5 separate regions of the Homo sapiens genome follow, and all the other regions are reported to be linked to region 1. The links are microRNA targets in miRTarBase. Many come from high-throughput screens and were not tested one by one. Region 1 holds a microRNA gene; each other region holds the end of a gene's coding sequence.
What was found. The annotated mature microRNA hsa-miR-3662 reads GAAAAUGAUGAGUAGUGACUGAUG and lies in region 1 at 4,335-4,358, shown strand. An mRNA with a match to its seed (bases 2 to 7 or 8) in the 3' UTR can be bound and repressed. Matches are read on the target gene's strand: a 7mer-m8 pairs with bases 2 to 8, a 7mer-A1 pairs with bases 2 to 7 and ends in A, and an 8mer does both.

Region 1 (6,570 bases):
GTATCTCCAACCCAAACCTTTTCACTCATTCTCCACACACTTGTCTAAGCACTACTGGACATCTCTCCTGGGAGAGTGTTCTTTTAGGGGTACCATTCTCATGGAATGTGGTGTGATTGGTCCCCCCGGAATGCAACTTCTGCATGTGTGTGTCTCATAGACACTTCAGATTTACCAAGCCTAAAATGGATCTTGTCCTTAGTTTCATATCTCACAGTTAATGCATCATCATCTCACATTTTCCCCTTTCTGTCATTAGTCTTCACTTTCCTTACCACTCCAAACTTGTTATTCCTTATTCCCGAATTCTTGAGTTTATTCCCTTTCTGTAGTAAGTTTGTGCATTTGTATCAGCCTCTACTCTAAGACAGAAATACCATCACCTTACTTCTCCGGTCACAATATTTACTGGCTTCCTATTACTTAACTGCAGGATGAAATTTAAACCCTAAGCGTGATTTATGAGACCCCTTTATTATTTCTCCCTTGCCTATCTCTGTTGCCTCCTGTCTTACCTTTTCTTCATTATTCTATATGGTCCCCTCCCCATGGCCCCCACAAGTGACACATGACTCTTAGCCCATCCCACATTTGGTTATGCCTTTGCCCACACAGTTTCCTGGGGCAGCAGTGTCTTCCTTTTTCTCCCTACTCATGCATACAAGCTACCTAATAAACACTTATTCCTTCTTCAGAGTGCCAGATGTCTATTCTCACCATCATGGATTCTTTGGTGCACCTTTGTGTTTCTATTGTATATTTTACATATTATTTGTCTCAGGACAATGTAATTGTTTCCATCTTTCTCTTCACTAGTATAATATCTTTATGGGCAGGGACTTACATTTTTATTTTTTTTTATCCCCAGAGTTTAGTATAATATCTGGTACTACGTATTTATTATTTCTCAATAAATATTTGAGAAAGGAATGAACCTTTCTTTGGTAATATGAGTATTTTTATTTGCAAAAAAAAAAAGTAAAGTGTGGTATGCCATATTTAGTAGAGATGTTAATTCTGAAATGATTATTATTTAATGTCCATTGAACTACTAGTTTTATATGACTACTTGAGAACTAAGTATAGTTAACGGTATTAATCATCAGATAACATTGCTGTATGAACCATAAGATTTTGGTATGTTTTGCAGATCAAGGATCTGGATTTTGCATAACTGGTAAAATAGAAGCTGGTTATATCCAAACTGGTGACCGACTACTGGCAATGCCTCCTAATGAAACTTGTACCGTGAAAGGTATTTATCTGCAAGATGCTTTTGCTAAACAAGCCTTAAGTTGAGACAGCAGATTTTTAAAAAGTGGTTTAGTTACAACTCCAAAGTAAGTAACCTCTTACTGAAATTGTAACTGACTGTCAAAATGATACTGACTGTTGAAGATTAAAATGTGAAAACATTAAACGATTTTTTTCTGTTGTGATTGTGTCTGTATATATATGTACATAAACATTCTAACTGTAGTAGCATTCTATTTTTGACACAGATCTGAGAAGCCTGGTTAGGATTTAATCAGATATGTATAGATACCTCACAGATGTATTTGGAATAATATTCTGTAGCAGAAATTAAATCTAGTCCCAGCCTTACCCTAACTAGTCAGTGGCAAAGCAGCCTTCTACAGTCTGTTACTTTGAAATGTATGTTTCAGAATAACTATAAATTAACAGCTTTGATCATGTTTATGCCAAAAATGTAGGTATATTTTATAGGAAGATATAAGTAACATTCAAATGGAGAAAAACCCAATGTTGAAAAGAGAAATTGAACTAGTTTAAATTGCCAGTCACTGTTTCTGCATATAGATCTAATTTTTTTCATAATGACTGATAATTGTTTCTGTCTTCTAATATATACACACATATATATATTTATGTATATGTATACATGTTATATGTTACATGTACATGTATATTATTTTCCAGATTTTGACTAAAACTTTCTAATTCTATACCTCTTTTATTCTGGCTTCCAACTAAGCCTCTGACTTCTGAAGATCTGTTTTATACTATAAAATAATATTATTTGTAACCATTTTAAGCTGAAGTATAACCTATTGGAAATGCAAAAATTTTTTAGATTTTAGTATTTTTCCCTCTGTTACTCTTAATTTATAGTTTATATCTAGAGTTGTACCTGACTAGTTTATCAATTTGAATGTATATTTTTCTTGAATTCATATGCTCTCTTTAAAAGAAGATTTCTTGAAAAGTTTAAGAAATTAATATCTATTGAAGTTACATGGTTTAACCTATATTTAAAGATGAATAAGGGAATGAAAATCAGTTATTTCCATTTGACCTTTTTATTTGTGCCCACTAGAGATCATGAAATTTCAGTTTTGATAAAAAGTAATATGCACTTTAAAAATAGTGTCATTTTCTATAGATCTGTTCATTGTGTGCAAGTACAGGTCTCTGCTTTTGTTTTTTAAAGTGACAAGAGCTATAATACTTTTGAAACACGATTTTTTTGGTATGTTAATGATCTTTTTTGAGAACAAGAATTTTTTTATGATTAAGAGCCATAAATTAAAACCATGATCCTAAAGTTATCACAGACCTTGAGGTTGGCTCCCTTGTAACCTCTAAAATCCTTAGTCATCTCTGAAAGTCTCACATTCTTTACCCTCCTCTTCTCTGTACTTTCCACACAGAGAAACTCTAAAGTATTATCTTTTATCAGTGTAAGTCTTATCAGAAGCCCCAGGGAAGAACCACCCTACTTCTTGAGAGCCAGTCTTTTAACTCAACAGAGAGGTTCTCCTTCCTCCATTCTAACCTTACTGCTTTTGCTTGGTTTACTTGATTCTTGAAAGCACTGTTCTGTCTAAACATTTTTAGGTACTACTGTGGCTCTTTAACCAGTACTGTCCCAAAAGAAAGACTTGACTGAATCTACTACCAACAAATAGAAATTCTAAATTACTTTTTTTTTTTTACTTTATTAACATATCAAGCTCATAGAGTATTAAAAAAGAGCCTCTTTTTGTAATGTTTGTCCAATGAGAAAAGTTTTTTGATAAATGTCATATGTGGAACAGTGTAACATGATTGAGGGGAAGAAGAACCAGAGAATATAATTACCTTTGGAAAATTTTATACTGTTAATTGAACTTGTAGTATAAAACATCTACAAATGTTTAAGCCAAAGTCAATCTCTATTGTGTGTAAATACCTAGCTTCTGTTTTTAATCCCATATTTCATAGCAAAATTCAGATATGTTCATTCTAAATTTACATTTTAAAATTAAATCTAGTAAGTTGATATTTAACAAACATTCCTTAATACGATAATTGCTAACATGTTTGGGAGGAAGAATCTCTGATACCTGAAGAAAGTTATGCCTTCTTTTCTCAGATTAATGCAGATGTGCACATACATGATATTTTGCATGAAACTCTAGATTGTCTCAGAGCTCTTAAAGTTAAATCCTTGAGCTCCCTAAAAGTCAGAAACTCTCCCTGCTGCATAGAAAATGAGTATTTTCAGAAAGATATGGGTGGATTATAATTTACTAAGAACATGTCAATGTGTCAATCAAGAACTATCCACAGTGGTTGGCCTACACATTCTCTTTGTCAAAAGGCCTACATTTCTATGGAAAGGAACTTAATCCATAAATGTATTCCATAAAATCAGAAAATATGGGATATATTTTAAAAGCCTTTGAGTAAGGTAGCTGAGTATTGCCCTTGGGAACTGCTCTCTCCGACTACCTTCAGGACTATGTCTAGGTAAATAGATGTATATCTCTAGATATATAGCAACACCTAGGATCATTTTAAAATTAAATTTTCTTATCACTATTTCCTTAATATTTTTCTTTTCATATAACTAGTCATTAGTATGCAGATCTCTCTCTGGAAAGAAGTTCTTTTGAGCCAGGAGTAGTTAAGGGGCCTGCTGAGAGGACCGCTTGAAATTCTGACTGAGTGTACATGTCCCATGGGTTACTTGGAAAACAAGGATTATTTGTTTAGGTGGTTGTCTAATTAAAAGCAAAACTCGAGAAGAAAATACTGCTAGACATCTTCTCCAGCCCATCTTTTATGTCATTATGAATAATTTGAACTGTGTTTTATTTTGTCTGTATCCATTAATATGATAGAAATATTTGAATGGGGCCTGTTTAATGAATATACCAATTGTGTCAATTAGTTTAAAAATCTTGATTAAATAAGCAGAAGTCAGCCTTTTATGGGCAAATACAAGTCACTTTATGTTTAGGGTGGTATTCTAGAAGAGTCAGTTCTAGAGGAAGTGTGTTTTCCTCAACGCTCACAGTTACACTTCTTACTCTCAATCCATTCATATTGAAAATGATGAGTAGTGACTGATGAAGCACAAATCAGCCAAACTCTGTTGGTTGTTATGGTTTGATATCGAGGTGTTTCACTGTATGCTTTGGTTCTTACTCATTTCCAGGAATCACTCTGCATGATGAACCTGTCGACTGGGCGGCAGCAGGCGATCATGTTAGTCTTACTTTGGTTGGGATGGATATCATCAAAATCAAGTGAGTGAGAAAATGAGTTTAAGCAACCGTTGTCTTCATATAGGACCTCACCTCTAAACACATATATTTTGCAACCTGCTAGTTCAATTTTGAATTTCATTTGACCAAAAATAGACACCTGTGTAAATGTAAGCAAACTTACTTAAAATTTGAATTAATACATGTCAGCACACATACTTGGCATGTGCTTTGAGTGAAAGCTCTAATGTATAAAAATGACATAAGGTTAATAATGGTTTAAAGTCATGCTTTAGCTCAGAAGAGAATATTTAGAAAAAGTCCCTAATTTACTTAATTGTTTTACTTTCCTTGTAAATGTTTTTGAGGTCTTTCTATTTGATGTAAATTTGTCCCCCAATTACCTTTCCTCTTTTTTTGTTGTTCTTACAGTGTTGGCTGCATATTTTGTGGCCCCAAAGTACCCATTAAAGCTTGCACTCGTTTCAGAGCCCGAATCCTCATCTTTAATATTGAAATTCCTATCACTAAAGGATTTCCTGTAAGTTCCAAAATGTTTTATTATTCCTGTTTTTATAAATTCAAAGTAACTTTATCCTAAAAGTGGTAACTTTCTTTACAAGTGGTGATACTATATTTATTTTGAATTAACATCTTATTACTGTAATCCAGAAAAACTTATAATTAGAAAATCGTTTTTATTTTGTTTTTTATTTTGATCTTTGAGCCTGAGGACTTTTTAAAAGGCATTGAGAAGATATTTAATAATAAATAGGATACAAAGTAATGATAATAAAATTTATCCAGGGAAAAATGATAGACACATTTTCACTGTGTTCTAAAGTTTACTTACTTCTAAGTTTTTCTTAGTTACTTCTAAGTTTTTTAGGTTGAATCATTCTGGGTTTCCATTTTTAATATGTCGATTTGCAGTTTTTCTGATAATAAAAGTTATAGATTGCATAGAAAATTTTGGAAAACTTAAAAATATGGAAAATAAAAATGCCATATACTTGCATAATCCATAGATATATATCTTTACATGTCAGTGTGTTTTTATGTGAGCATATTATCCACCCAGTTGGTATGTATTGGGTGTATTCTGGGGATCCTAGACATACAGTAAATGTCTGGGGATCCTAGACATTCAGTTGTGCTGAAGCAACACATTCAGAACCTGCATGTTGTAAGGTTGGTTTGCCAGCATCATTTGAACATATACATTTTATGGGAAGAGGGAGATTTTATACAATAATGTTACTTATCCTGAAAAGCTGTTACTTGTGAATAGTCTGGATTTTTTGTTTTATGTGTAATTGTTTTGAGATATTTGGGACCGTACTCTTATAGTTTTTGTACTTTGCTTTTGTCACGTGACAGATGACCATTTTTCCCATTAGACTTTTTTTTCTAATTAGCTCATATAGTACAGATTCTGCATGACAATAAATGTTTCTCAGTGATGTTTCTACCATTTGATGCATCTTTGAAATAAAAGTAAGAGTTTTTAAAGTTAGTGATAGTGGTTTAGAGGTTGGCAATACATTTATTTGGGTCATTTATACTGATACACCTATATTTGAGATAACCTTGTACTTTATAATTCTTTGTAATTATTTCTATATTAATTTGATCATGTAAAATTATATTTTAAGGTACTATTTAGGTACTTTACTTACATAATTATATTCCATTTCTTCCATACACTAGAAAAGAAAAGCTTCTTTTAAAAAAATTGCTATAGTTGAAGATACTTAAATATTCAGAATTCATGTATTGATCATCAAGTAACAACAAGTTAATTGTTGTGAGCGAATGGAACTCATTCACAGAAAGCAGTATGTCCTATGAGGCAAAGGAGGGGTTGGTTACTGCATATTTTTACTCATGCAATAATAATATTTGCCAATGGAGAGGTAGAGGGATGAAGAGGTCAGAAGTGACTTTGAATAGTAATACTGTCTCCCTGACTACTGTAGTTTCTTAAAAATAAGCATGAATTGCAAGTTTTTCACTGTTGCTTTAGGAGATTCTGCCAGCATATATTGATTCAGAAATACCAGGATCAAATTTGTTT
Region 2 (6,570 bases), not on the chromosome of region 1:
ATCTACTATGTACAAGGAGCACTCTGGTCACCCTTTAGCTGCACAGCACACAAAATATTTACAAAAAATGTCACAGAAACTGTTGTTTCCATTATTTGGAAGAAAACGAGGACAAATTTCAGGATGTGACTTGGCTCATTGTTTCAAACATATTTGGATGTGCTGAAAGAGAGGAAAGAAAGTGGGAAAGAGAGACCAAGCCACTTAACACCAAGGATTTTTTTTTTTTTTGATGGAGTCTCGCTCTGTCCCCCAGGCTGGAGTGCAGTGGTGCCATCTCGGCTCACTGCAAGCTCCGCCTCCCGGGTTCATGCCATTCTCCTGCCTCAGCCTCCCGAGTAGCTGGGACTACAGGTGCCCACCACCACGCCTGGCTAAATTTTTTATATTTTCAGTAGAGACGGGGTTTTCACCATGTTAACCAGGATGGTCTTGATCTCCTGACCTCATGATCAGGGGCCCGCCTCAGCCTCCCAAAGTGCTGGGATTACAGGCATGAGCCACCGTGCCCGGCCAACACCAAAGATTTTGGGACAGTCATGGCAAGGAGTGGCAGCTATTACAAATTTGAATAGGGTAGTCAACTGGCCATGGAAAGTGGAGTTGCAGGCATTTGAGTATCATCATTTTTTTTAGTATAATTATTTAAGTTCCTTTTTTGAAAAGATTGGCTGGACATGGTAGCTCACACCTGTAATCTTAGCACTTAGGATGGCCAAAATGGGAGGATCGCTTAAGCTCAGGAATTCGAGACCAGCCTGGGCAACAGGGCAAGACTCTCATCTCTATTTAAAAAAAGAAAAAAAAAAAAAAGTCCTGCTAGCTGAGACAAAGACAGGCGTAAGAAAAACATTCTCAGATACCTCGTTTATTTTTACCAAGTTGTAGTCTCTACCCCACTGGCTTACTAGAGTAGTGGTATTGAATCAAATACATAGCTACATTTTCTGGGCTATGTGATTTAATAACATTCATTTTAACCTCAAAAAGGGAAAATGGGTTGGATTTGTCGTTGGATTTCAGAAGATATTTTAAAGTTTGACTAGTCATAAAAAAATTCTTACACAATATTAGCCATAAAAGAAATTCTTGTTTATGTACTTTAAACCCACATCTTGACTGACTCTAATAGCATTGGCCCATGTAATCACTACTCTCTTTCCTTTTGAATTTATGTCAATACATTATTGGTATGGTGGCTTTTGCTTTGCCCAAATTACCTGAGTAATCATGTAAATTGTTATCATTCTACAGATAGTGTGTAGAAGGACCCTAGATTGGAAATACAGCTCATTGAAGTTCAAACTATCTTTATTTTGGTGGTTACCCAAACCTTGGTATCTTAAAAGATGTTTCCTTAATAGCCCCTTAGACATCTCTGCCAATTTTTTTTTTAGACAGTCTGTCACCAGTATGGAGTGCAGTGGTGCCATCAAAGCTCACTATAACCTCAAACTCCTGGGTTCAAGCAATCCTCCCACCTCAGCCCCCGAAGTAACTAGAACTACAGGTACACACATGGCTAAATTTTTCTATTTTTTGTAGAGATAGATTCTTGCTGATGCCCAGGTCAGTCTTGAACTCCTGGCTTCAAGCCATCCATCCTCTACCCTCAGCCTCCCAAATTGCTGGGATTACAGGTGTGAGCCATAGCACCCAGCCTGTCTTTCCTAATACAGCTCTAAACTGATTTCAGTCCTAACTCACCATCTCTATCCCCTTTCAGCTCCTAAGTTTTCCATAAACACTATTTGGGTTTTTTTGTTATTTTTTAGACAGGGTCTCACTCTGTCACCCAGGCTGGAGTGCAGTAGTGTGATCATAGCTACTTCACCTCAACCTCCTGGGCTCAAGCAATCCTCCTGTCTCAGCCTCCAGAGTAGCTGGGACTCAGGCTCATGCCACCACAATCGGCTAGTTTTTCTCTTCGTAGACAGTTTTTTGCCATGTTGCCGAGGTTGGTCTCTGGCTCCTGGGCTCAAGCAATCTTTCCACCTCAGCCTCCCAAAGTGTTGGGAATTACAGGCCACTGCACTCAACCATAAACACTAATTTGTAATCTCCAGTAGGAAGACTACTGCGTGTTAGCCGGGCGCCGTGGCTCATGCCTGTAATCCCAGCACTTTGGGAGGCCAAGGCAGGCGGATCACGATGTCAGGAGTTCGAGACCAGTCTGGCCAACACAGTGAAACCCCCAACTCTACTAAAAATACAAAAAAAAAAAAAAAAAAAAAAATTAGCCAGGTGTGGTGGTGTGCGCCTGTAATCCCAGCTACTTGGAAGGCTGAGGCAGAATTGCATGAAGCTGGGAGGCGGAGGTTGCAGTGAGCCGAGATCGCACCACTGCACTCCAGCCTGGGTGACAGAACGAGACTCCATCTCAAAAAAAAAAAAAAAAAAAAAGACTACTGCATGTCTTTTCCCCCTGGGAAACTGTCATTACTTTTACATTCTTCTTCCTTGTGTCTCTTCAAGTGCAATTCCATGGTTCTCTGAACATTAAGTTCCATAAAATTTTAGTTCAAGGATAAAGCACTGATCGGAAACAAAAAAATCTAAAATACTATATTTAAAAAATTAAACCTTCCAACCTAAAAATGAATACCACTTAAAAATGTTAGTACAATCTGTTATTAAAATTCCTGTGCTCACTTCAGCAGCACATACTAAAATTGGAACACAGACCAAGAGTGGTGGCTCACGCCTGTAATCCCAGCACTTTCAGAGGCCAAGGCAGGAGTAACGCTTGAGCCCAGGAGTTCGAGACCAGCCTGGGCAACATAGTGAGATCCTGTCTCTACAAAAAATAAAAAATTAACTGGGAATGGTGGTGCACACCTGTAGTCCCAGGTACTTGGTAGGCTGAGGTGGGAGGATCCCTTGAACCCAGGAGGTCGAGGCTGCAGTCAGATTGTTTGTGCCACTGCACTCCAGCCTGGGTGACAGACTAAGACCCTGTCTCCGAGAAAAAAAAAAAAAAAAAAAAAGATTAAAATGGCCCCTGCACAAGGATGACATGCAAATTCATCAAGCATTCCATATAAGAAAAATTCCTTTCACATACTATGATCAGTAGCGCTTAACTGAAATTACTGAAAATTACTTTCCCCTCAAGCATTCATTATACCCCCATTACTACCCCTCCTATAGTAGAGCTTCAAGCCAATACTAGCCTTTTCTGTAAGCAACATGAATATTGTTCAGATTTTCCAGGTACAAATCAGTAGACAAAACTTAATTTGTATAAAGGATTTTAGTGCATACAAACTGTCATCAAATAAGGTGCTTTTTAACCAGGTTAAATTTTATGATCATCCCTTTAATTCACTATTTACCAACCTCTTTCCTGCCAGGGCACACAGGAAATGAAACATTTTGCTGGATAAGCCACAGATGAAGGTACTAGTGGTGGAACTGGCTCATGGATACAGATTGCTGTGCAAAGCTCTATGCATTTACTGTTTTAATAATTACTCCAATAAAAGGATTTTTAAAAAGAGATCTTTTAACACATCCACTTACACAAGTGAGTTATATACACACAAAAACTAACTGGAAATACTTCTTCACATTTTCACTGTAACCATTTACTTGTCAAGGGAAGGCAAAATGAATATTCAAAGTCAAGGCTAAAGCTACAGTGTTAAACTCAAAGAAGGATGCAATTTAAGTGCTCTCTTGTATAAAGCATCAGAAAGTTAATACAAGTACTAGTCTTAAGCAGTCACACAAGTCTAAGCCACATTTATTTGCACATGTATAGTAATGGCCAACAGATACTCCAAGTTCATACAAATTTGTAAAACAACAAAGTTAATAATCACTTGGTACACTTGTGTGTTATCTTGCTTACATATTAAAACCTAGATGAACTTCCTTCATTTTGTGGACTTCCATACAATACTTCCTTAAACAAAATTCTTGAAAACACATATCAGCATGTTTAAGTTAGAGCCAACACAAAGTTAAGACAAGACACAAACTCAAAAACCAAGTTTGAAAGATACTTTTCTACCTCCCTCCCCTAGAAAGAAGTGATTTTCTTTAACAGATGTATGTTATATCACACAAGTAACCATGAAGACAAAAGAATGACGCTCCCATCATCAGGAAGAAAATGCCAACCAGATCATACTGTTTAGTTATCTACCGAACATATGGTTAAAATATGAGAAACGGGGGAAAATGCTTAGATTAAAATAACAAGGGAGAATAGAAAATAGCAAATGATTTTAAAGAGAACTGTTCCCCCTCAAAGCTGCAAAGCTCTGACTCTGACAACTAAAAACTGTCCAAGGCAAATAAAAACGAGGAAACCTTCAAAAACATTCTAATCACGTGCAGTATCTAGTGTTAAAAGCTGAAAATGATAAAGAGGATATTTATTATACAAGTGTCAACGAGGACATCCCAAAAATAATGAAATAAACACACATTTATTTCTACAAAAGCAATGTATGATACAGAATTAGAAGGGAACAGACTTAAAGATTTGCCTATTAAAATATACAGATTCTTACTGAAGAGTATAGGATATTTAAAAAAGATGACAAGGGATGTTAATCTTTTTTTATTATTATCATTTTTACATATTTTGGAACCTCACATAATTTTGATAAATAACTCTTACAAAATTATGCAAAAAGTACAAGAATGTCTGGTAAACAAACAGTCTGTATTTTCCAAAAAGATTTTTTACAACATGCAATTCTTAAGGCAGCATCCTCTTTACAAGGAAAGGTAATCCTTTTTTATCAAGAAATCTTCTGCTGCAAAGAATGGCTAAGAAAGCCTGGCTTCTTCCATTAACGCCTTTTGTCTTTCCTGTCTGATTTTCGGTCTCTTTCACTTCTTGAAGATCTTTTGCCTGATCGACTACTCTCTGATATAGACCTCTTTCTGTCGGACCGGGAATTCTTATCCTTTGATCCTTTTGTATCTCTACTACTACCACCTTTTGAAGATTTGTGACTTCTTTCTAGTCCTGAAGTATCCCTTCTCTTCCGATCCACGCTCCTTCTGTGCTTTCTATCTCTATTATGTCCCCGGCCCCTACTCCGACTTCTACTCTCACTACTACTACTAGTGCTACTGCTACTATCTCTGCTGCTGCTGCCACTTGTACTGGAGCTGCTACTGGAACTACTGCGACTGCTACTACTTCCACTGCTGGAACTACTTCCACTGCTGCTACTGGTTGAACTGCTACTAGAACTGCTACTGCTACTGCTTCGACTTCTACTCTTGCTTGTTTTATTTCTAGCTCGACCTCTACTTCTGCTCCTAGTTTTGGTTTTGCTCTTGCTCTCTGGATGTACTGTCAAGACTGGCTCTACTGGTACCTCAGTGAGTTTTACAGACTCTACAGGAAAATCCTTCCTCTCAGGTAGTAAATGCCCTTGCTCCTGAGTAACTTGGGGTGTTGGCTGTAAAACAGCTAATGACAAATCCTCAGGCTGAGAGGGAGGCTGGGACTGGAGTACTGGTTGGGACTGGGATTGAAGCTGAAGCTGGGGCTGAGACTGAGGCTGAGGTTGAGCCACAGGCTCAGGTTGGGGCTCAGATTCTTTTTCTTCTTTTTCCTCAGACTCCTTTTCCATGTCTAAAGCACTGACATTCTCTTTCCCAGGAGAAAGGGTTTTACATTCTTTATCTGGCTCAATTTCAAATTCCATTTCTGGTTCCAATTCTTTGCTAGCTTCATTTTCTGAAGGTTCTACACTTTCAACTCGATTAGTTTCCATTACCTCCTGGTCAGCAATTACATGTTTGACATTCTCAACCATCTCTAGCACATCCATAACTTCTTCAGGCTGACTATCCTGCTGCTTCTCACTTTCCCTTACCTCAGTTTCCTCCTCCATCTTAACCTCCATTTCCTGTTTTTGTTCTTCCTCCTCCTGTTCTTTCTCTGCATCACTATGAACAATCGCTATTTCCTTTTCCTCTTCCTCTCCTGCTTCCTCTATTTCTACATCATTGTGCTGATTACCTGTCTCCTCCAACTCTTCCTCTCGCTGAGCCACCTTACCCTCTTCTTGTTCCGCCTTCTGTTCTTCATTACGCACCACCTGATGCTCTTTTTCCTTCATTGATTGTCTTCTAGGCCTAGCCTCCATTTTATTTATTTGTTCTGCAAATTCGATGCGTCTACCTTCAAATAAAGCTAAAGAATAAAAATTTACATGTGTAAAATTTACCGATTAAGAAAATTCAAAGCCATAATTTTATAACTGGTCACAAATTGTCATTAAGCTTCATCTGAATTTGTTTTTGTAAAGTTATGACAAAAGATTATGGCAATTAAGTAACCACAAACTGACATAAAATTATAAAAGCAAAGATCCATGGGAAATCTACATACTAGAAATTGTGGCAGACAGAACTACACATTTTCTAACTGATGAAGAAAACAGATCAATCTTTATGTCTGATGAAAAATAAAACTTCTGTAAAACAGAACCAGTTTTGGCATAAAATCATATATATTAATTTTTCTGATCCCAAAGAGATAAATCATCATCTTAGCAGTGTCTATCCTTCCATGTGTTTTCCATCTAGAAACTGAGT
Region 3 (4,000 bases), not on the chromosome of region 1:
CTAGTGAAGCCATCTGAGACCAGTGCTTTGTTTTGGAAGCTCATAATTGATTCAATTTATTTTATAAGTTTATGCAAGGCAGTTATTTCTCCTTGTGTGAGTTTTGGTAGGTTGCGTCTTTCACAAAATTGGTCCATTTCATCTGTTATCAAATTTGTACACTCAAGAGTTGCTCATATCATTCCTTTATTATCCTTCTAATGTCCTAATGTTCACAAGAAGAGTAATAATGGCACCTCTTTTCATTTCTGATTTTAGTAATTTTTGTTTTTTCTTTTGTTATGGTAAAAGTTTTATAAATTTTAACTTTTCATTGAATTTCATTTGTTTCACTGAATTTCTCTATTGTTTTTGTTTCAATTTTATTGATTTCTACTCTATTTCTTCTGCTTACTTTGGATTTAATTTGCTTTTTCTAATTTCCTAAAGTAGATGCTTATTGATTTTAGATCTTTAACATTTTCCAATATATGCACTCAATACTATAAATTACCCTCTAGCCACTGCTTTTGCTGCATCTCAAAAAAATTTTTTTTTTTTTTTTTGAGACGGAGTCTTGCTCTGTCGCCCAAGCTGGAGTGCAGTGGCACAATCTCAGCTCACTGCAAGCTCCGCCTCCCGGGTTCAGGCCATCCTCCGCCTCAGCCTCCCAAGTAGCTGGGACTACAGGTGCCTGCCATCACGCCCGGCTAATTTTTTATATTTTAGTAGAGACGGGGTTTCACCACGTTAGCCAGGATGGTCTCGATCTCCTGACCTCGTGATCCACCCGACTCGGCCTCCCAACAAGTGCTGGGATTACAGGCATGAACCACCGCTTCCAGCCGCATCTCACAAATTTTGATAACTTGTAGTTTCATTTATTTAGTTCAAAATATATTTTCTCGAGACTTCTTTGACCTATGTGTTTAGAAGTGTGTTCCTTAATCTACAAGTATTTTGGGATTTTCCAGGTATTTTCATTACTTATTTCTAGTTTAATTCCTTTGTAGTCAAAGACATAGCTTCTATGGTGTCTTTTTTGAAAAGAATAAGTTAATTACCCTTTTATCACCATATATTGCCTCTCATTTTCCTTGTTCTGAAGTCAGCTTTGTATGAAATTAATATAGCTACTCCAGCTTTCTTTTGATGAGTATAGTTTCATATGTTAGTCTATCTAGGCTACCCTAACAAAACACCATACACTAGGTGACTTAAGCAACAGAAATTTTCATTTTCTCAAATTTCTGAAGACGAAGTCTGGGATCAGGGTGTCAGCATAGTCAATTTCTGGGGAAGGCTCTCTCATTTGTAGACAGCTACCTTCTAGTTGTATCTTCACATGGCAAAGAGAGCAAGCTTTCTGTGTCCCTTCTTATAAGGGCACTAACCTTATGTTAGTCAGGGTGCCACCTAACCTTAATATCTTCCAAGATCCTGTCTCCAAACACTATCGCACTGGGGGTTAGGGCTTCAACATATAAATCTGGGGAAGAGGGGAACATGAACATTCAGTCCATAACAAATGATGTATCTTTCTCCATCTCTGTATTTAAAGTGGATTTCTTGTTTAGTCGTTTTTTAATGCACTGTGGCAGTATCTGTGTATTTAGACAACTCACATTTAAACTGATTGATATAAATTACTATATTTGTTAATGTTTTCTATTAATCGATCTTTTGTTCTTGTCTTCCACTTTTCTGCCTTCTCTAAGTTTAATCCAGCATCTTGTACAATTCCATTGTCTCTGCTCTCTTACCAGGATTAAACAGATACGAACAATCCACCATCATGTGAATTGGCTCTCTGATTATTGCAAAACAAGATTCATTAAAATGGATGATCTTCTGGACACAGTCAAATGATGGAAGAGAATAATCATAACGTAACATGAAAAATAATAGCATGTATCAAATAGTGGTTACCCCAAGGCAGAGAGGACCTGGATAGGAAATATCAAACGAAATTTCAGTTTTATCTGTAGTATCTGCATTTTTTGTATAATCAAAAATAAGTTAAAAATTTTACATCTCTACATGCTAAAAAAAAAGCAAGATTCCATCAAAACAAAGTTGTAGGATAAACAATAAACTAGGGAAAGTATTAAGAATATTAAAAATAAGCTATTAGCAACTTTTCACTTACTAATTTTTGAGTCAACATGTCATAAAATGCAATAAAGTATTTGATACACTCCATTTAGCAACTGGAAGCATATTGACATACCCCATATAAACTTTTAGAAGAATACAGTCTATTGGTAGGCATTGCAAGCATAAGGATTACTTTTTTTTTTTCTTTTGAGACGGAGTTTTGCTCGTCACCCAGGCTGGAGTGCAGTGGCGCAATCTTGGCTCACTGCAACTTCTACCTCCCAGGTTCAAGCGATTCCCCTGCCTCAGCCTTCAAGTAGCTGGGATTACAGGTGTGCACCACCACACCCAGCTAATTTTTGGTATTTTTAGTAAAGACAGGGTTTCACCATGTTGGCCTGGCTGGTCTCGAACTCCTGACCTCAAGTGATCCGCCCACCTCGGCCTCCCAAAGTGCTAGAATTATAGGCATGAGCCACCGTGTCTGGCTCAATTACATATTTTTAATGTTTTAATTAGCAAACACCAAAAGTGTTTTGCTAGTACTTCACGGACAACAGTACTACCTGCTCTGAAGAATTCTTGTCAGACCTACACTGCCATTTCTTCCCTCTCCAGTAACTTCAAAGAGTAAAAAGTTGCTCACTTCTTCAATATCCAACTGCAGTATTCTAGGAGGTACTTTATATATTATCCTCCCCTAAAAGAGTTACGTTCCCTAAAATATAATAGTATTTGTATTTTCTACAGAGGGATTTGGTATACTTCAAATATTTGTTTACTTTAGAAAATATGAAGTAATTAAGGTAAGCCAGAGACTTGGATAATATACAGTAGAAAGCGCTTTCAAGTAAAAAAATAAACAAATTTATCTTAGAAAACTAATGATACTAAATGGATTTAGGATTCTCTAGTTTAGCTTGTTATGTAATACTAAATGAGTCCTATATCTTAGTTTATCGGCCTTTAAAAAACATTTGCTACTTATAAAAATATCCCACATCACTAATAGCTAGAGATTTTCAGAAATAATTTTATTTACAGAAAATTCACAGAGGATTAATAAAATGTCATGAATACAATTTTGTTGGTAATAATTAGCAGAATCAAGAGTAGATTAATATATAAGGTAACATGATATATTAATAATACAAACTAAAATATCAATTTTATGCTAGCTTTATCCATTAGTTTTTCATATTCCAATTTTAAACAAATCTAGAAATAAGACAGTATATATGAAACAAATTTGCTAAATATTTTTAAATTATGCCACCTCAGATATTACCTCAATTTTAAAACCATCTGTAAATTAAATGACCTTCCCATTATAATTTCTAAATATAAAGAAGCACCAGCTGGAACTCAAAATGCATAAAAGATATTGTTATATATTTTAAGAAAATATTATATTAGCAATATCATAAATCAACAAAGAATCCAAAGAATATTGCATGAGGTAAGGTACATTAAATGTTTTATGCCTAGAATATTATCTACCTGCATTCTTATCCATATAGTTTAAAACACTAAAGCACTCACTGAATAAGAAATGACCATTTAAAAATGAATAATAGATGGCAGCACATGCCATTTTGCAATAAAAGTAAGATGGCCTATGCGCATTAATTTGCAAATAATGTTTTTTATCCAAATAGTCCTGTGGTTCCAATATCCTTGAATGATAAGAATTTTTACTGTGTGAAAAAAGAAAACATCCTTTTACTGATGGAAAGCTTCTAATCTTATTCGGGTTGGATCTTCTGGATGTCTCAAGGCAATTCCATTACGCAGCAGCAGCTCAACATAAGGTGGCCAAAAGGAATCACTAATTTTGACATATGGATCATGTGGAACATCAAATAATCTATTTATAAGAATCTAGGAGAAAATATCATTCAAAATATACTTTACTTGGGAAAAA
Region 4 (6,570 bases), not on the chromosome of region 1:
TGTCCTCTTTACAGAGGATCAAACTAAAGGAGAGTGTGCCCTTCTTAAGAAGGCAGATCAGAGATCCCTTTCCACTGATGTCAGGGATTGACTTGACTTAGAAAACACCAGGTAGTGTGTATAAGGAAGCATGTTCAAAGAATGTTCACTGCATCATTGTTATAGTGGAAAAGTTGAAAACAACCTAAAAATCCCCAAGGGGGAACTAGCTGCATATATTATAACATAGCCTAGCCATACTATAAAATGCCAGGCAGCAGTTAAAAAAAAATGAGGTAGATTCTGTGTATTGACATGGAGAGATCACCAAGACCCACTGTTGAATGAAAAAAAAAGCAAGTTGTGAATCGATTCCTATAGTGTGATACTATTCCATGTTTGGAAAAGCCAAACCCTGTAAAATATTTTAAAGAGGTTTATTCTGAGCCAATACAAGTAACCATGGCCTGGGGAACACAGTCTGAAGAGGTCCTGAGAAAATATGCCTGAAGCAGTTGGGTTACAGTTTGGCTTTATACATTTCAGGGAGACAGGAATTGTAGGTAAAATCCTAAATCAACACATGGAAAGTATACATTGGTTTGGCCCAAAAAGGTGGGCCATCTCTAAGTAGGGGCTAACAAGTCATAGTGGGCTTTAGGAATTTTTTAGCTGGCAGTCGGTTGAAAGAGTTAAGCTTTGTGTAAAGACTTGAAGCCAGTACAAAAATGCCTAAGTTAACGGAGTCTGTTGTCTGTCATGTGATGCTATACCTGAGTCAGGTTGGAAAGAAAGCCACATTAACACCAGTTAATTTTTTTAAAAACTGATGAGATTTTATGGTTTATAGGGTGAGATTTAACCTTGTCTGGCATGGCCTTAGGTCTTGTTTATAATTTGATGTCTTACTGCCACAAAGAGTCCATTCTGTCAGTCTTATGATCTCTATTTTCACATTAATGCTGGTCATTTGTGCCACAACTCAAAAAGGGAGGGGATATAATAAGGCATGTCCAGCCTCTTTCCCATCATTGCCAAGAACTCACTTTTTCAGGTTTCTTTGGGGTCCACTTTGGCCAAGAGGGAGTCCGTTCATTTGGCTGGGGGTCTTAGGATTTTATTTTTAGTTTACAGATAGGAAATAAAAATAATAATTCCGTATATTTTCCTTGACACATATATGCATACACTTACACACATAAAAGGGTGAACACAAACAGTACTGCCTCAGGGACAGGGATTGGAATTGAAGGAAATGTCAAGAGAGACTATCCTATTTGAAATTTTTTATGTTGAACAAATATATTCTGTGCAACTTAGATTAATTTTCAATGAAAAAAGAGCATATATTTGTGGTCTTGTCATTAAAATGTTCTAGACTAAATAAATGTTAAGTGTGGCCACTGCTTCCTGTGACTCATCCCACTGGAATGCAGTGGAGGGCAATTTGGGGGAATAATAATCACTTGAATAGTGAGTTATACATCTAGCCTTTTACATTCATTCAAGGCTCCAGCATATTTATAAAATCATTGGCATTGCTCAAGATGCATCTGGCTTGCCCAGGGGGCATGTCAGCATCTCAGAATACTTGTGAGCAGAAGGCTTAACTCTTCCCTGTTCTGGCCCACAGGAGGCCCTGGAGGCATGCCAGACGCGCATCTCCAAGATGGAGCTGCAGCAGCAGCAGCAGCAGGTGGTGCAGCTAGAAGGGCTGGAGAATGCCACTGCCCGGAACCTTCTGGGCAAACTCATCAACATCCTCCTGGCTGTCATGGCAGTCCTTTTGGTCTTTGTCTCCACTGTAGCCAACTGTGTGGTCCCCCTCATGAAGACTCGCAACAGGACGTTCAGCACTTTATTCCTTGTGGTTTTTATTGCCTTTCTCTGGAAGCACTGGGACGCCCTCTTCAGCTATGTGGAACGGTTCTTTTCATCCCCTAGATGATGCTGGCACAGAAGGCATTGTTCCCTACCCTCTGGCGAGTGCATGCAGCAGAGAGTTAGACAGCAACTTACCTACTCTGAAGTTTTCTACAACAAAAAAAGAGTTGAGTGAATCTGTTTACATTTAGAATAATGTTTTTTTCTTCAAGAGACGCAATTGCAATAGTATTTTTTAGATTTTATCCAAGAAGTTTTTTGGGCGAAAATCTTGGATCATTTTTATGTAGCATGATTTTCCTTGGGATGCAAATCTTAAAACAGTCCTTTAATATGAACCAACAATCTGGAGCACACCGAAGGGCAATCTAAATTGTGGCTTGAAGGACTGCACTAAAACCCACTAAAAAGATGCGAAAACCTGATGAGGGCAAACCAGTTAAACCTAACACCCTGCCTTGTCTGGGCTCATCACCTCTCCCTATCCCAGACTAACTTTACTGTGAAATCCTACCACATTCCATGTCTGAATTTTTGGATTCGGGGTGGATTTTCGTTGTCCGTGGAAGAACACATGGATCTCTCTGGCTTTCTCACCCAAGTTGGCCACTTACGCTAATCCTGGAAGTATGATCACTTTTGAACCTGCCCCTTAACCTTGACGAGGATACAAAAGTGAAAGCATCATCCCCCAAAGGATCACTGCACAGTCCTACTACAGTATTTTTAAGTAGCCCTCTAAATACTTAATTTTAAGCAAAATCCCTTGGCCGCACTTTTAAGGTTTTTTTATATGTGTATAGTTACCAACCTAAAAATAAAAAATCCGAACAGCATACTTGAAGAATGTAATACTCAAACTCTCAGTGCTTCCTTATGGTTTCTAATAGGATTTTTTATTATTGTTATTATTATTATTGGGTTTTTTTGGACAGGGTTGGGAGGGTCTTTTATTTTTCCTTTGAAATAAAGAAGTGATGTTTTTAAATGAAGAAATGTGTGGATATTTAAGTGTGCTGCTCCCTCTTGTCTTGAAACAGTTTGAGTAAGAAAGTCTTGCTGTAAATGCTGCCCTCTGCCGCCTTTGTTTTGAGATGCAGTTTAAACTCCCTCTGGCTGCTGCTGCTGCTTTTTGGTGTCCCGACATACCTACGCCCCCGTTTTATGGGTTTGGCTTAGTTGAAGAGGAAAGGGTTGTGCAAGGAGAGCAGGAGGCTGTTTCCAAAAACCAGTGTAGTAGGATAGGGATTTTTTTTTTTTTTTTTTGCCCCAAGAAAACGTTCACCCAGTGATCTTGGGCTGGGGTTGTCTTTAGGAAAAGTTGAGACTATAAGAGTCATAAATAAGTCCTTGTGTTTCCTTAATTTATTTTGTTAACACCCCTAATTACAACCAAAGTGATGATGTGGAGTCTTCTGTCTTCATTTTGGCCCCAGCATTCTTAATTTCAAAGCTTTATTCTGTCTGCCTAAGAGAATCAACCAAAGGTGATTCTCCTAAAGAGCAGTGAAGGAAATGTCAGGTTAGCAGGACCCAAGTTTTGGGTGTGAAATGTTGCCAGCTTCCTATAATGTAAACGGACTTGTTAACCTAACCTAATTATGCTCAGTGGACTTCTATAGATGGTTTTGAAAAATGAACTGAGCTGCCTTCCCCCGTCGCATAACCAGTTCCATCATCCTGGTGGAACTTGAACATTTAGAGTTTATCTAGAGAGCTTGGTTAATCTTTCCATATTATTTGTAGTATTGGTCACAAATGCTGTTCCCTCTTAGCCTCATTCTGTGCAACCAAGTGCATATAAGATGCCCTGAAAAGAGTAACAAAGTATGCTTTGCCTGTTTCCACTTACCAGGAAATTCCTTCAGAACTAGATTAGCATTGCCCTGCCTGTCTGAAAGGACAGTTTACCTAATGGTGCCAGCCTCCTTTTGCTTTGGCAAGCTGGATTTCTCAGAGCCAGCATGTTGTTTCCATAACTACTTTGATATTTTAACTCAGGTACTCCAGTCTTCACCCCAACCTCAGCTGATTGTAGTACACCTGCTAGCTCTGTTGCCCCCTCAAAACTGCACCCAGAGCAGGGCCACAAGGGTGCTTTTTTTCTTTAAAAAAAAAAAAATTAGAACCAATTCATGTTCATGCCAAAAACAAATTGTCCCCAAGCCTATATGTATTAAAATGTTAACTTTGCCTAAAAATATTGCAGTGACTTTTTAGGCAGGAGTGCCAAAGGACACTATGAACTTTTTGAACTGACAGTTTCTCCTAACTTTCTGCTTTAGCGTAATTGCTCAGAGTAGAGAGCCCCCACAAAGTTATTTAAAAGATGCCCTAGCAGCAATCCACCAGTTTTTCTAAGCTAGAACCTTTGAGTCCCCCAAACTGCCTGAAGACTTAAGTTTTGTGGGCACTGGAAGTCACTTTGATAGATGGATTGAAACTGTTCCTATTTGCCCTGGGACGGTTTCTATCTATCAAAGGAAGGTTTTCACCTGTAGAAAGCCCCCTGCCTCCAGCCAAATAGTCCCATGCTGACTTTCTATCTTCCTTTCTCAAACTGTCTTAGGAAGGACCTTCAGTGCAGATCAGGTGCAGTAATGGCTTTCTTGTCCCTTAATTATTCACCAGACCCAGAAGTTGTACGCATTTAATGCTGTTTGTAACCATGCATCTGTTTTCATTCTTTGCTGTACCTTTTGCTGCCCATCCTGTTACTTTTGAGTTTCTTTCATTGTGGTTGTTCTTGGGTTCTTTTGTCTTGTCAGAGCTCTTCTATAACCTCGCTCTAATGGCTTAACAGTTGTTCTGGGTGGAAACGTCCCCTCATTTGAATGCTCCTCTAAAAAAAAAAGAAAAGAAAACTGTATTCATTCCCTTTAAAATGAAACATTCCTGGTTTATTTGTCCATGCCTCTAGCCTGGGTGAGTGAAGCTGGCTGTGTTGGCCTGGGTGATTGTTCAGGTTGTAGAATGCGCATTTTACATTGTTTATGATAATTGAAGGGTACTTCTGTCTGCTCCAATTTCCATTCCTTGGTATACTCAGTATGTCCTAGTAAGGAAGGCTTTCCACTCTACTGGCTCCTTAAGAAGCAAAAGTAGGTTAAATTTTATACTTCACTGACTAGGGTCTTCTCTCTCCCCTGTTCTGAATGGAGTAAAAGTCTGATGCCAAGACAAATATTGGGAGCGAGCCTTCCTCACTAGCCATGTCCAAATAATGAGCGTATTTTCATGTGGTCTTCACTGCATTTGGTTTTGTTTCTGATTTCATGTTCCTTTGAGGTACAGTCAGATGAAAATGCTGAGTTCTGAGAGAGTTCCAATGAGGAGCTGCCTTTCAGCTTTGGAAAATATGCAACTAAAACAAAACCAAACATTATTGTAATCTGACACAGGCAAAATTATGGTTCCCACACCCCAACCCCAAATGAAACCTGGGATTTTGAATGTGGCTCTAAGAGTTAACATTGCTGTCTGTATGTCGTGTATGCTAGGTGATATCCTCAGTAGGGATTGACTACTAGACTGTGTGTTTTATCAAAGTGTGTAAGAATAAAAACTCACTTGCACGAATTGAAACGTAAAGAAATGACACTTGTGAACGTGTGAACGTTAACACTGTAGTTGATAGATCTTAAGCTGCTAATTGTTGAGAGAGATTTAAATTTATGTTCTGTCTGGTCGCTGCAGATTCTCAGCAGCACTTTTACTGTATATAGAAATTGAAATAAAGACCTCAGCTATTAACCTGGTGGTCAGACTCATGTTTGTTTTGCTTTTTATTTTTGAAACATTTAACATATGTAGTTCTACATGCATGTAATGCATTATTATCCAGCCTAGTGCCACCTGTAGTTTTGTTATAAAAGTAGTAATTTCTATTAGGACTTTTTCCTGATGATCTCTGGGAGGCCTCTGGAAATCCTGAAGTCCTAAACTTGCCTTTGACCTGGTACCAAGCAGAGACATGATGATTCGGTCCTTCACAGCTCCAGTCTGAATGTCGAGAGCTTTAGTCCCACTTCTGGCTTGCTAGCTGTGTGCCTCTTACCCCATGTATAAACTAGTGATACCACACCACCCAACTTGATCCTACAGGTGGATGTTGTGAGAGCAAGGGATACATCTTGTGAAATCTTTGAAAATTCCCCTTAAAATATGGGCCAGGCTGCCATGTACAGATATGCAGGTTGTATATTGCCCAACCCTGCGGGGGCTTCATAAGTCTGATAAACTGTGAACAACATCCAGGAGTTGTGTAGTGCATACGGGACACATAGAGCTGCCATGATAATGGGCGATACATAATTTCAAAACCTGCTTTATTTTTATCCTTTAAAAACCTTGGAGACTTACTGAATGCCAGTAAAAACTGGGTGTGGTGGCTCTCACACCTGTAATCCCAAAACTTTGGGAGGACAAGGTTGGAGGATTACTTGAGGCCAGGAGTTTGATACCAACCTGGGCAACATAGTGAGACCCCTATCTCTACAAAAAATAAATTTAGCTAGGTGTGGTGGCAGGCACCTGTAGTCCCAGCTACTCAGGAGGCTGAGGTGATAGCATCACTCGAGCCCAGGAGTTTGAGATTACAGTGAGCTATGATTACACCACTGCACTCTAGGCTAGGTGGCAGAGCGAGACCCTGTCTCAAAAAAAGAAAACTTCAGAGAGTGGAAGGCAGATGACATAAATTTGAGA
Region 5 (6,570 bases), not on the chromosome of region 1:
AAGATGGGTTTGAACTGTACACATTCAGTGGTATGTGGATTTTCTCCTGCCTCTGCCACCCCTGACACAGTAAGAACAACCCCTCCTCTTCCCTCTCTTCCTCCTCCTCAGCCTCCTCAACATGAAGATGAGGATGAAGACTTTTGCGATGATCCCCTTCCACTTAATGAAGGGTAAATGTATTTTCCTTACAATTTTCTTAACATTTTCTTTTCTCCAGTTTACTTTATTGTAAGAATACAATATATAATGCCTATAACATAAGATATGTGGTAATCTACTGATTGTGCTATCAGAAAGGCTTCCCATTGACAGCAGACTATTAGTAGTTAAGTTTTGGGGGAGTCATAAGTTATATGCATTTTTACTGCATAGGAGGTTGGCACCCCTGAGCTCCGAGTTGTTCAAGGGGCAACTGTATTTGAATGAGGAGTGATGAAAGGAGTCTGTGAAGTCACCTCTGGACGTCACCCCCTCTGGGAGGGCCTTCTCACACTTCTTGTTCGTGTGGTTTGATTTTGCGGTGTCACAGCCCTATGCTCATCCTTTATTTCACCACCACCACCACCACTGTTATTCTTACGATCACCAACGTGGTCTGGTTTTTTTTCTTGTAAGAGCTGGAGGTGTTTGGGAAGTGCCTCAGACACGCTGTTCTCTAGCCATGGAGTACCATCTCCTACCTACTTCCCGTCACATTCCCTGTGCAAACCCCATCTGTTCTCTAAACCTCGCTCATGCAGTCTACCCCTCCTCCCAGTTCCCATGTCGTTGTTTTCTCTTCCCTACAGCCTTAACCATTTGGCTCCTGAATTGTAATTCTCTGCCCCTGTGTCTTCTCTGTCCTGCGAAAACTGCACAGGATAGGTTGGAGCTTTACATCTCATATGTCCTGCTCAAAGTACAAATAGAGTCCTAGGTCTGCCCTTGCAAATAAGGGGCAGTGTCAACTGTATGTACCATCTCAAATAGCAAATTTGGGATGCTTAAAGGCAGACCACATCATTGCAGTGATACACTGTGAATTTGAATGACGGTTATGTTTATTTGGTTCAGCAGATAGAGAACGCATCTCTAAAAACCTTTTACTTACCTTAACTAGCAAAACTTACAACATTTACCTTTCAAAACATAGTGACATTTAACTCCATATAAAGTAAAAGGAGGTTCTTTAGTATCATGGAGTAGAGGAGGGGATTTAAGGATGCCAACATGCCACTTCTTTCTTGTTACCACACCTGTGGGTCCTCCAAGGCTCTCCAACATTTGCACATGATTGGATTATGACAAGAACAGAGAATTATGTAGCCTGCCTCTTATTTTTGTCCCCTTTTCAACTCAGGTCCAATGAATTCAGAGAAAAAGATCTACGTTAAGAAAAAAATGCAAGGAAACAGAACACTGGCTTTTAAAGCATTTAATAAGTCAAAATCAAATAAAAGTGATTTTTAAAAAGAATAAATTTACATACAGTACATAAGCAAGACAGCTGAAGGTTTCTAAAATAGAAACCTGGTGCATATGGCCCCAAAACACCACATGCTTTGATTACACTCAGGAAGCATGAGTTGCCTATTTGGGTGAGAAAATCCCATGTTACAGTGCGATCACTGGGCACGTTTTGGAGTAATTCCAGCCACTGCTATGTAAGTGTTTTTAATTCAGGGGTGTCTTCTACGTTTTCATCTTCTGAATATCTTGTGACGGTGCAGGTTTGAGCAAAACTGGCATGAAATGAGAGCTGTTTTAGATGAAGATTGCAAGATGGATGGCTTGGCCCACAGTGGCAGTGGGTTGGGGGTGGAATGTGGACAATTAGGAAAAAGGCATGTCATTCTATCTGGCTCCTGGAGAGGCAGATAGTCCTGGGGGCTTTGGTGTCACAGTTCCCAAAAGCAAGGTTGGCCAGACCATAGGCTTACATTGTGGTGAGCTTGCCTTTTAAATTAATCTCCAAGATGCCAGATCGAGAGGGATGGTGGACCTAGACTGAAGCCAAACCAGTAGGGGGCTCTCTTTCCCCAGAGAGAAACTCCAAATGTCTTGAAAGGAGCCTGAACCATACCCTTTGAAGGGGCAAGCAATGGTCTGAGACAGAGAGAGGATTTAACAGAGCAAAGTGCTGTGTGAGAAATGAATGGAAGAGGGCTAGCAAGACAAGGGTGTGAATCAGGTAATGCCTTTTTCACCCCGATGAATTTTTGTCTGATTCTCACCACAGAGCAGGAGTGCTCAGAAACTGAGGTTGGCGTCACCAATATACACTTTTCATTCTCCAGTTGCAGTAATCAAATACTTTAAAAAGTGACCAACCATGACAAATCCTTGGCTCATTCTTTAATGTGCTGTGGCTGATATATTCATCCTCAGCCCAAATTAGTTAAGTACAGCCTTAAATATATCAATATAGCTGATCGGCCTTCCTATTGTTGGGACTTAAAACTAGAGACAGCAGTAAAAATTATGTATATGATATATATATATATATAAAATGATATATATATATCATATATATGAGAGGCCAGCACCCACTCTGTGACAATGATCACAATCCCTCTTTTTAAAAAATACAAGTGGGAAAAGCTGATCCTTTTGTCAGCTGGCTTCAGACAAGTCAACCACAATTATTTGGTGTAAATATCCAGTGTTGCGAACTCTGGCTGGGCAGCTGTGTGGATGAAAATACAGAAAAGTGCCGCATCCGGCTGACAGCCACTGCTCTGCAGGGGCAGATGAAGGCTGGGAGTACCTGTAAGCTAAGGCCCTTCCCCTGAGTTGTGCTGCAAATACTGGGCAGAGTTTGATGTAAAAGCAGTCAAACGGCAGGTCATCTTGATCTTTGCCTTCTAACTATAATAAATATGAGAAGAATTTTAAGTAAAAACAGGATGTTTTGCTAAAAATTCTTTTTTTTTTTTTTTGAGAGAGTCTCGCTCTGTCGCCCAGGCTGGAGTGCAGTGGCGCAATCTCGGCTCACTGCAAGCTCCGCTCACCGGGTTCACGCCATTCTCCTGCCTCAGCCTCCTGAGTAGCTGGGACTACAGGCGCCCTCCACCACGTCCGGCTAATTTTTTTGTATTTTCAGTAGAGACGGGGTACCGTGTTAGCCAGGATGGTCTCGATCTCCTGACCTCGTGGTCCGCCCACCTCGGCCTCCCAAAGTGCTGGGATTACAGGCATGAGCCACCGCACCCGGCCTAAAAATTCTTGAGAAATTGGAATGCTAAGTTACATACTAAATATCATCCCAACAGTAAGGCCGTAGAACATATTTGAAATCAAGAAAAATGTGATTTTTCGGTTTTAACACGTTAAGAGCCTCTGTAACTTTTAAGGAAGCTATTTTTTTTTCTAGAGTATGCACATGGTGATGATGTGTTGGGTTGATAAAGCACTGGCTCAGTCCTACAGGCACTAAACTTCAATGGATACTTTGTTAACTATAGTTACACTAACTTTAAAGAAAGTTCTTGATACCTGTTCTTTATTCTTAGGAACTGAAGAGGAGGGAACTCCGGTGTTTGCATAATCATCGCCTTCCCATGTTAAGAGGACTCACCCTAGTAGGCTTAATGGGTTTTGTATTTGGTTGGCTTGTTTTCCCAAGAGACACTAAAGTTGTTCTTGCATTAATTCCCCTTAAAATTGCCAAGAGATAAGAGGTGGGAAGACAAAAAGGGCGCCTGATTCTATTCAGTAGATGAGAAAATAGATTTACAGAAGGTAACTGTGAAATTGGAGGAGTAATGTCAGGGAGGCCTTGTCAGGACAGGCAATGTCAAGGAAGCCTATCCCTTCTTTGTCAGACTCCAGAAAGGATTGAGTTCATCTGTTCTTCACAGATCCACTTTCCTAGGCAGATGCCAGTGCCTTCCAGGTTTGTATGAAAGCAAAAAACTGCTGACGATGGGCAGAGGGCCTGTCCCAAACCACTAGGAAGCAGGAGAGGGCAGGAATCTCAGTGAATCCCAGATGTATCCACCTGTGCTGAAGGCTAACCCCCAACCTGTTTGGTGATGTGTGAGCAGCCAGTTGGTTTCATGGGTCAGAAGAGTGTGGTAATGGTACCTGGAATCCTGCAAAATGCATGGAAACAAGGAAGAGCAGATCCTTATTCCAACATGAACAGCAGGACTTATAAGGAAAGCAGGCTTTTCCCCATGACCTCACAGCTCTGCCTCCACCTTTCATCTCTTCACAGTGAGCTTTCTTTCAGAGTGATCTTACCACCCAACCAGGCACAGTCTAATTTGATCATAACAAGGAGGAGGCCGGGCACAGTGGCTCATGCCTATAATCCCAGCACTTTGGGAGGCTGAGGTGGGTGGATCACTTAAGCCCAGGAGTTTCAGACGTACCTGGGCAACATGGAGAAACCCTGTCTCTACAAAAATTAGCTGGGCACATGGTGGTCTATGCTTACAGTCCCAGCTACTCAGTTGGCTCAGGCAGGAGGATTGCTTGAGCCCGGGAGGCAGAGTTTGCAGTGAGCTGAGATTGTGCCACTGTAATACAGCCTGGGAAACAGAGCAAGATCCTGTCTCAAACAAAACAAAACAAAAAATCACCAAATAAACGATAAGGAAGTCACCCTGTCCAAGGAATGCCGTTTCATATGGTGCCACCCCTTCTCCTAGACCAAAGTTCCCATTTTAGAAATAACTCCATGCTAGGCAAGGTTGTAACGGAAAAGAAAGGCTCTACCTCCAGCCTCCCAGATCACCCCATCTCTACTGGCTCTCCAGAACCCAGTGGGGCTCATAGCTATTCCTAAGCCAGGCCACAATTCCTGCCAGCCCATGACTAGATCCAAAGCCCGTGCAACAGCGAGAGGAGCAGGGGCCGGGCGGGGGGGGGGGGGGCGCGGTGTGTGCCTTTAAAGATCCGGATTATGGTCTTTAGCCTGGGTTCAACTGTAGCACAACCAACCACCACGGACGACCAATGACCGCTATGAGACAGTTCTTCCTTTCACACAGCAGCATCATTTATCTGGTAGTAGCAAGACAGCCGTATGACTTTTTGTTGTTGTTAAAGAAAAATAAGTTGTCAAGATTTGCCTACCAATAACTTTCCTATGTCTTGGCTTTCATGTCCAGTGGGCTAGTTTCCAACTGTTTGAGACTCAGGGTAATCCCAGAAACCTGTGAAGCATCGGCACAAAGGTTGTAGCGCAGATGCCAACAGATGTGTAGGTAACAAACTTGTAAGGCACTTCAATCTCCAGTCTCCGCCTGGCCTCCTTGTTCCTGGTGACCACCTTGAACCATGAGTATAATACTTGCAGTGAGAGATTTTGTACAAGCTGACGAACCAAGAGGATCAACACAATTCCCACTGCAAATTTGGTCAGACCCAAAACTAACATGTAGGTGGTGAGTGGTGGGATGTTCTGAATAACAGGGAGAGATTCAGCGGGCTTGGATACAAGCTGGAAGAAATGGTTGATCCAGAATCCTATGGTCACTCCAGCCCCGGCAGCCAGAATGGTGGTGGTGTCCGCCCGGGTTGGGCTGTAGTAATCAGAAACAGGGTAATTGTAACACAGGAAGAATGGCACAACTATGACACACACGGGGAAGAGGGGGCTGGCCGAGTCCAGGCAGTCGATGAAGGTCCAGGCAGGGTAGGTGAGGACGATGAGGAGTGCGGTGATCAGGACGCCACCCAGCACATCCTTTGGGAAGGAGAGAAAAGAACAGTGTGAACCAATGAGTGTTTCCTTGTATACAGGTATAATTTGAATCAAGTATGGCTAATTTGATATTTAAAACACAATTTTTGCATTGTTTTATTTTACAGTACATGTTCAAAGAAAGTGTAAAGTTCTAAAACTTTGAAGTGAAAATACGAAAAAATGCTTCCAACAACCATACTACTCATGTTACGTATCTTCTTTCACCTTTTTTACCTTTTGGAATAAATTCTGTATTTGTTTTCTTAATGAATAACTGTAATCTCATTGTCCTTCAAACTTATATAAATCTAGTATTTCGACACTTATATCACAAATACTGTCACCGTCTTCACCGAGGTGTCACCATCCTTTCATCCACCTGGGGGTTGGGCTGCAGGCTGGCTAAAGGAGGAAGCTCGCTTCTGGGGGAGCCAAATATACACAGCAAGCACATCAGTGTTATGTAGAGGACATGTTCCTTTGGGGTGGTTTGAGGAGACATTTGGATGTGGTAGCACCAAAGTTCTTCTGCGTCAGCCTTGACACTACTACCCCACCTTCAGAGACAGGATTTCAAACAGCGTGCATACAATTTCATTGAGCAGTTGTACCATGCTTTATTTAATTAATCCCATTCTTTAGAACAGTGGCTTGCTTTATTCCATCGCCTCCTTCCTTCCCTGCTTAAAATATCTTTAACTCCTTGATGTCCCACATTTCCCTCTTTCCTTAGTCTTCTCTTTGCACAATATAATTAATCGATTCTTAGTTTCAATACCTAGAGTTAAGCACTTTCTCTAAGTTTGCATGTTTCCATATATTCTTTTTTTCCTATATGTATAATAGAATTCTAAGACTTGGTCTTGCTTTTTCTAATAACTTCATTATTTATT

Region 2: miRTarBase lists PNN as a target of hsa-miR-3662. Seed matches in the 3' UTR shown: 7mer-m8 at 4,364-4,370 and 7mer-m8 at 3,607-3,613.
Region 3: the mRNA of CENPK is a reported target of hsa-miR-3662. Seed matches in the 3' UTR shown: 7mer-m8 at 3,640-3,646 and 7mer-A1 at 3,140-3,146.
Region 4: the mRNA of TMCC1 is a reported target of hsa-miR-3662. Seed matches in the 3' UTR shown: 7mer-m8 at 2,140-2,146, 7mer-m8 at 3,285-3,291 and 7mer-A1 at 4,842-4,848.
Region 5: miRTarBase lists SGPP2 as a target of hsa-miR-3662. Seed matches in the 3' UTR shown: 8mer at 2,488-2,495.

The regions. Positions count from the first base shown.
Region 1 is chr6:134,977,143-134,983,712 of GRCh38, reverse strand. It overlaps MIR3662 (microRNA 3662), which reads left to right and starts at 4,281; the gene lies at 4,281-4,375. HBS1L (HBS1 like translational GTPase) reads left to right here. Exons shown (of 18, transcript NM_006620.4): 13 at 1,151-1,255; 14 at 4,445-4,535; 15 at 4,926-5,034.
Region 2 is chr14:39,180,099-39,186,668 of GRCh38, reverse strand. PNN (pinin, desmosome associated protein) reads right to left here. Exons shown (of 9, transcript NM_002687.4): 9 at 3,449-6,166. The coding sequence ends at 4,806. Among named protein-coding and RNA genes, the nearest start is that of PNN-AS1, 7.5 kb to the right of the region's middle.
Region 3 is chr5:65,514,677-65,518,676 of GRCh38, forward strand. It overlaps CENPK (centromere protein K), which reads right to left. Exons shown (of 11, transcript NM_022145.5): 11 at 3,090-3,957. The coding sequence ends at 3,799. Among named protein-coding and RNA genes, the nearest start is that of ADAMTS6, 35 kb to the left of the region's middle.
Region 4 is chr3:129,646,838-129,653,407 of GRCh38, reverse strand. TMCC1 (transmembrane and coiled-coil domain family 1) reads left to right here. Exons shown (of 7, transcript NM_001017395.5): 7 at 1,613-5,616. The coding sequence ends at 1,927. Among named protein-coding and RNA genes, the nearest start is that of PLXND1, 43 kb to the right of the region's middle. RefSeq lists a silencer at 1,508-1,802.
Region 5 is chr2:222,557,454-222,564,023 of GRCh38, reverse strand. It overlaps SGPP2 (sphingosine-1-phosphate phosphatase 2), which reads right to left. Exons shown (of 5, transcript NM_152386.4): 5 at 1,403-5,677. The coding sequence ends at 5,126. Among named protein-coding and RNA genes, the nearest start is that of FARSB, 95 kb to the left of the region's middle.